Linked DNA regions of Homo sapiens. The protein of the gene in region 1 purifies or fractionates together with the protein of each later gene. This does not show direct contact. Each region holds a gene or a part of one and is shown on either strand. Other genes may lie near its edges.

Region 1 (3,647 bases):
GGGCCCAGCTTTTTGTCATTAGCTCCCAAACCCCCTTGGCAAGAAATCTATGAGGAATAACAGAAGATGCTGTGTGGCCCCCTCATGGCCTTTCTTGCCCAGACACAGGATGCCGCTATGGGCTGGATGCAGTGTGGGTGCCGTCCTTTGCTTTGGGAGTTTTACTGGTCCACAGAATTCAAAATCTGGGGTGGGGAGGGGCACTATAAAGGCCTTGAAGTCAGAGCCCACACATTATAAGCTTACGAGCTGTCAGAGAAAGAGGTCACATATTCAGGGGAGGGGCTGAGCTCTGCCCACCCGCTGGACATACCGACACTTGGTACTGCACGTCCGACGTCCACACCTCCTCATCCCCCACCACGCATGGGATGGCTTCCATCCGGCCCTTCAGGTCCTTCAAGGCCTGGGGAGAGGGACAAGAGTGGGTATGGTCACCGCCTTCCTCGCTTCCTCCCATCTAAAACCCTAACGCAGAGTCCACAGACGGAGGTGCCCAGGCAATACAGAAATGAGAAGGGGGCCAGGCCAGGTCGGTGGCCATCAGAGAACATGTGCTGCCCTCGGGGACAGCCGGACTCTGCTCCAGCCATTGTCACCCTGCAGGAAGGTGAGGTCTACCCATGACACAGAGATAAAAAAACTGCACCTGAAACTTATATGAAATCTCATGATTTTTAAAATGCTGGCAATTAACTGGAAAACATGTTTAACTATAAAACAACTAGGTTTATGACATCTGACCTGGCCTGAGAAGCCCCAGAGTAGCTCCAGGCTGCCACCTTGGTCCTCCCAGCTGTTCCCACACTCCAGACCCACAGCCCTCCCAGGCTTCCACCCAAGGCTGGGAGCAAGGGTAGAAGCGGGTGATGGCTGCAGGCACGGGGCGCTATCTCAGGGCTGCTGGGGATGGCCTCTGCTCCATGCCCTGCACCTCTCGGGTGCCTCCCACCCTCCCATTACCTTTTGCAGGGCATCTCGCTCAGGGCTGCCCTGCGTGAAGGCTAAGACGGGCTCGTTGGCCACCTTCAGGGAGGAGGTGTGCTTCCACCGCAGGCTGGAACACAAGGGCAGGGGACAGAGGCAGAGAGGTCAGCAGCGGCCCCACCACCAGACCCCAGCCCCTCTACCTCCGACAGGGGGTCCTAGGTGGGCACCCAGAGCCTGAAATCCAATGCAACTAGAAAGTGGGGGGTCAAAACCCCACCTTGGGCTGGGCATGGTGGCTCACACCTGTAATCCCAGCACTTTGGGAGACCAAGGCGGGCAAATCACTTGAGGTCAGGAGTTCGAGACCAGCCTGGCCAACACGGTGAAATCCCGTCTCTACTAAAAATATTTTAAACGTTAGCCAGGTGTGGTGGCATGTGTGCCTGTAGTCTGAGCTACTCAGGAGGCTGAGGCAAGAGAATTGCTTGAACCCAGGAGGCAGAGGTTGCAGTGAGCCGAGATCGTGCCACTGCACTCCAGCCTGGGTGAGAGAGCGAAAAACTCCATCTCAAAACAACAACAAAAACCCACCTTGGGGGTCCACAACCCAAGGTTCAAGTCCCAGTCCCACGGTTGTGTGTCCTTGAGCCTGTGAGTTGCCTCCTGTGAACGTGGTTCTACGTCTATCAAGTAAGAATAATCGCACCGAACTCACGCGGTTGTTTGAAGTTTAAACACACAGATGCAAAACCACGTTGAAGTATTTTCCACATGCAAAGCGTTACTCTCCCTTTCTTCTCCCACAAGGCAGGCTTTATCCCAAAAAGACCCAAACTCCTCTCTCTAAGCTGAAAGGGCAGCACATTCCAGAACACAGTCTCAGAATGTGAACCAGCTGAGATCCCCTTGGCACAAAGGGCTGAGAGCTCTGGCTGGGCAGGAATGTCCAAGATGTGGACCATGAACTTGGAGAGCTGCCCTGAGCTCAGCTCACAGCCCCGGGAGGGCTGGCCCTGGGGGTGAGGTGCCTGATTCCAGGACACTGAGTCTCAAGAACTCCTTGCTCAAATCCTCTGACCTCTTTCCACCACCCCCTACCACATCTGAGGGTCACAAGGTGGGAGGTCAGGTGGCTCAAAGCTAGGACGCTGGGGTCAGTCATTCCAGAGCTGGAGCCTCAGCCCTGCCACCTCCCAGCTGTGGGGCTTCCCCTTCAGGCCTGTTTCCCCCTCTGTAAATGAGAAGAATGATGATGACAAAGTCAACTAATGCCCAAAGGGCACTTGAAATTGACAAACTTCCCATCTACCGTGGCATAGGACGGGCCTCACCAGCCACCTCTCTACAGAAATAAGGTCATTTTGGTCCTAAAAGGAAAATGACTAGTTCAAGATCAAGAGTAGGGGAAACCTGCACTTGAGTCCAGAAGGCCCAGATACCATCTCTCTCTGGTGTCAATGGCCCCAGACAACCCGAACAGCTGGAAGTGCACAGGTGGGGTTCACTGGTCGGCGCAATGAGGGAAAACACACAGCGTAGGGAACCACAGGGCATCTCAGTAAGATGCTGTTAGGAAACCCATGGGGTTTGGCAGGGTGACTTGGGGAGGGTTTAAGGAAGCCACGGTTAGCTCTGGATTGGCTGCCATCAGAAAGTGGGGGTGAGGCTGACTGGGAAAAAAGGAACATTTACCAAGATGTGCAGAGCTTTGTGGGTGGCACAGAGACCTTGTTTTTGTCCGTGCTTAGACAAAAATCATGAAGAGAAGGCCCGGCATGGTGGCTCACACCTGTAATCACAGGACTTTGGGAGGCCAAGGTGGGCGGATCACTTGAGGTCAGGAGTGTGAGACCAGCCTGGCCAATATGGTAAAACCCCGTCTCTACTAAAAATACAAAAATTAGCTGGGCGTAGTGGCCCACTCCTGTACTCCCAGCTACTTGGGAGGCTGAGGCAGAAGAATCACATGAACCCGGGAGGCAGAGGTTGCAGTGAGCTGAGATCACGCCACTGCACTCCAGCCTGGATGACAGAGCAAGATTCCATCTCAAGGAAAAAAAAAAAAATCAGGAAGAGGGCTTATTGTGTCTCATCTGATCATGGTCTCAGAGGGACGTGGCCTGAGGCTAGTGTTCTGCGGGATTGTTTTTGCCCTATGGGAGACAGACTGGCCCGGCTATGAGTGTCGGGGGCCAGAAGGAGTCTGGGGCTCAAAGACCCAGCCTGGGAAGCCTGAAGGAAGGACACAAAACCAAAGGAGTGTGGCCAGGCCCTGTGTTCATTCCACTTGACTTGAGGTTGACTGAGGACCTGCTGGGTCTCTGGTGCCGTCTCAGACCCTGGAGATAAAGCAGTGACAGAGACAGCGAGGCCCCTGGCTGCACACAGGTGACCTTCAGTGTGAGGCCTGGTCAGGAAATAAGCAAGGTAACCGCAGATGGTGAGCATGGCAAACAAGGGGGAGAATAGGGCTGCTTCAGCCAGGGTGGTCAGGGAAGGCCTCTCTGAGGAGGTGACCCTGAGAGGGACTTAAAGGAGGCTTGAGAGGAGCTGGGAAGAGCATCCCAGGTAGAAGGAGGCGGGGGGGGGCTGAGAGGGGCCTGCGTGGTAGAGGGAGAGGGAGAGGCAGGGGCAGGGCACCCAAGATCCTGACAGGTAAAGTGAGCACATAGGACCTTCTCTCCACTCCCCTCCCCTCCCCACCAACCTCCACCCTG
Region 2 (3,647 bases), on another chromosome or scaffold:
GCTGCTTCTACCCACAACTGGAGCAGACAATAGTCTTAAGAATTGCAGTGAGCCAAGATCGCACCACTGCACTCCAGTATGGGCAACGGGGCAAGACTCTGTCTCAAAAAGAAAAAAAAAAAAGAAGAAAGCCACGGTGCCAAGGCTGAGGAATGGGGATCATGCCCATTCAGCCCTGGTCAGTCTGTGAAGGAGTGCTGTGCCACCCCCTCCTGTCCACCTGTGGTTGGTTAGAAGCAATCTTGAATGTCCTAATCACTGGGTCAGATCTAACCACTCCCCTCCCCAAGTCCAAGCAGACATGTGCCCAGCCTGTGAAAACTCCATTCTCGTTAGACTTGGTCCTTCCTCAGTCCTTTAGACCGCCATACCCTAGGCAGTGAACCTCTTTTTCTGCCCCGTAGCCCTCCCCAGTTCTTTGGAAAGAGATCCACATCCTTCCTTTAATGAACTTCCCCTCCGCTTCATCATGTAGTTCCCAATCATAAGATCTTGCTCTTCCTGGTTACACGGCTTGACCTGGGTCAATAAACAACTTCCACAGGATTTTAGATGATGATGGGACAAAGCAGCTCTTTCCTGTGGGGTCGCTGGGCTAGGATTTTGTGGCGGTGACTCCTCTCCCTTTCTGATATGTAAGGAAGTCTGTTGCTCTAGCAGTCAGTGAAGCAAAGAGGGCAGAATCCCTTCACAAATTCCACGTCTCAGAAGCAAGCAGGACTTACCCGGAATGCCAGCCTTGGCAATGGCAGCCGCCGCATGGTCCTGGGTGGAGAAGATGTTGCAGCTGGACCACTGCACCTAGAAGAGCCATCAAAACAAGGCTGTTGGTCACTGATGGCTCAAAAGCACCAGGGACGCTGGGCGAGGAAAAGGGAGAGCTTCGGGTAGTGGGGAGAGGCTTGGGATCTAGGCACAGCAAGCTCTAGGATCACAGGCTGGGGATGCTGGGTGGGCAGATGGGAGCCAGAGCAGGGGCGAGATCCAACTCAGGTTTTAAAACCTCACTCCAGTGCTGTGTGGAAGGGAAAGGGTGGAAGCAAGGGGACAACTGCAGAGACTGTTGGAGAAGACTCCAGACAAGAAATATGACAGTAGCAGTGGAGATGATGAGAAGTTGTCACATCCTGGGTCTACTCTGAAGGCTGCACTGACAGGATTTGCAGAGGGATGAGTTGTTGGAGTAAAGGGAGTTGGGAGTGGGGAGGAAAGGGAGGGGAGGAGATGACTCCCAGATTCGTGAATTGAGAGAACCCAGAAGGCTGGAACAGAGGTTCCATTTACTCAGGTGGGGAAGGCTTTGGGAAGAAGAGGGGGCAGAAAATCCTGAGTCTGTTTGAACGCGTTCTGCCTGAGATGAGTACTAGACCTCCAGGGAGCGTCAACGCCCCCGCTCCTGGATATGCCAGTCTTGAGTTCCAGGAGAAGTCCAGGCTAGTACAAAAATGTGACAGTCATCACCAGATAGTGTCTAAAGCTATAAAATCAGACCGCCAAGAGTGAATGCTGAAAAGAAAGAAGAGGTCCAAGGACTCAGCCCTGAGCCCCTCTGTGGATTTTGGCTCCATTGCCCTACCCTGCTTTGGGAAACCAGCTTGCTTCTTGACTCTCTGAGACCTTAGGAGAGCTGTTAATCATTGGCACACATGACCCAGGCTGAACCAATCAGAGCTGCCATCATCCAGCAGCCATGATGGGTCCAGGGTAGGCCTGTGACCCCCGAAGGGCCAAGGCAAGCTGGCCCTTAAGAGACTAAGTAGGACATGGGTGTTGAATTTTTCCTGCCAGAGCATCCATCAGGAGGATGCCTTGAGGGTAGCCAACAGTGACCTTCCCAGCCAGGGAGAAAATCTGCAGAACACTCACCACAAGGGGTGGCAGCACTGGGAAACGGAGGAAACCGAGTGAGAGGGAGGAACCCCTCCAGGCCCGCGGTCAGCTCCACACCTGGAAGGTCCCCACCCTGGCACAGTCGTCTTCTTCCCTGGCTGAACCCAGGGAGGGCAAGGACTCTGGGGTGATACAGCTGTGGGCCTCACCTCAGCACCCAGGGTGACGAGGGTCTCAATGAGGACGGCCGTCTCCACGGTCATGTGCAGGCAGCCAGCGATGCGGGCGCCCTTCAGTGGCTTGGAGGCCGAGTACCGCTCCCGCATACGCATCAGGCCCGGCATCTCGTTCTCAGCAATGTCCAGGGCCTTGCGTCCCCAGGCAGCCAGGCCGATGTCGGCTACGGGAGGAAACAGGTGGGAGTTCCGTGAGTCCCCTCATCCCACCAACCAAGAGGGGCGGTCACTGCATGGACCCCGATCCACGTGTGGACTCAACACACTAGGGCTTAGCACTCTGTCACCGCATTCTCTCACTCATGCAACAAGTATTTATGAAGCCAGAGTACTCAAGAAAGACACGGTCCCTGCCTACCTGCACCTTTCTGACTTGTGGGAGAACACATTTAATCACACAGGGACACAAAAATTACAACATAAAGAAGCGTCCCTTTGAAAAATAGCTCACATGATACTTCCCACTACCCTGCCTTTCTGCTGACACCTACCAACCTCCAGGCCACTCCTCACTCCCTAAAGACTCCCTAAAGATGTTAGCTGCTGGTTCTCCATCTTCCTCTCTCAGTCATCACTCTCGGTGATTCAACACTTATAAATACTATCTAACATTTTGGATTTGACAGTTCCTTGATCTCCTTTTAGATGTAAAAATGCTTCCCCACTCCTGATGTTTCTTTCCACCTGGAGGAACTCATCCGTATAACGAATGCTCTTGGCCTCTCTGCCCCAGGGGAGGTGGGGTGAGCTTGTCTGACCAGTAAAACTGAGAGGAAAAAATGGTGTGCTCAGCTTAGCTCTCCCTTCTTTTTGCAAGCAAGCACTCACCTGCCCACTTGCAGGAAGCTGGTGTTCTCTGCTTTTCCAGAGACCAACCTACCCTGGCCCACCTTGCCTGCAACTGATTGGGTAACTGCTGAATCTGGGGGTTCAATAAGCAGGATCATTTGGATTTCATATTAATCTATATCCTCTGGCTTTGAGGTTATTAGTAATAAAAGGTAATATTTCAGGTGTTGCCACCTAAAATACTAATCTACATCCTCTGGCTTCATGGTTACTAGTAACAAAAAGTATTTCAGGTGCTATCTGCCACCTAAAATGTCTCGAATTTGTTCAAATTCTCAGGCAGGAAAGAAGGATATTATTATGAGCTAACTCACTATCTCAATACTCTCCCCTACCACACTGGTCCACTTCCAAGGTCATACCCTAGGTCAGTCCCTAGGTCAAAGTTTGCAGACTTCCCCGGTAAGGGATGTTCCTCTGGCATGCTTGTAAATCTCCCCTGGAAAATATGATTCAGCAGGTCTAAGACTCCTGGTGATTTTTATCTTTAGGGAAGCTGAGATCCTGCCAAACACCCAAAGAGGTAGGCGGTGGGAGGCAAAGGACTCTGTAGAGAATTTAATAATCTAAGAATTTAATAATCAATAAAATTGTCTGTCAGTCAGCTTCCTACAGTGCATTTTAACAATTTCAGAGATGAAACACGCCTCCCGCATGAGAGACCACTCCGGCTGTGCCTCAACTCAAGCCACCCACCCCAGCCCTCCTACCCTAGTAGGCCATCACCAGTGA

Evidence for each region. Proteins that work in one complex are often made in the same cells at the same time.
Region 2: the proteins of ALDH4A1 (region 1) and AHCY fractionate together in Homo sapiens (co-fractionation; one large-scale study listed by BioGRID). This does not show direct contact.

What each region holds. Positions count from the first base shown.
Region 1 is NC_000001.11:18,889,049-18,892,695, forward strand, and holds part of ALDH4A1 (delta-1-pyrroline-5-carboxylate dehydrogenase, mitochondrial isoform a precursor), read right to left. Parts: intron 1,844-3,647; exon of another isoform or gene 1,646-1,843; intron 1,058-1,645; coding exon 964-1,057; intron 407-963; coding exon 314-406; intron 1-313. UniProt on the Homo sapiens protein: Irreversible conversion of delta-1-pyrroline-5-carboxylate (P5C), derived either from proline or ornithine, to glutamate. This is a necessary step in the pathway interconnecting the urea and tricarboxylic acid cycles.
Region 2 is NC_000020.11:34,293,356-34,297,002, forward strand, and holds part of AHCY (adenosylhomocysteinase), read right to left. Parts: intron 2,231-3,647; coding exon 2,040-2,230; intron 802-2,039; coding exon 726-801; intron 1-725. UniProt on the Homo sapiens protein: Catalyzes the hydrolysis of S-adenosyl-L-homocysteine to form adenosine and homocysteine. Binds copper ions.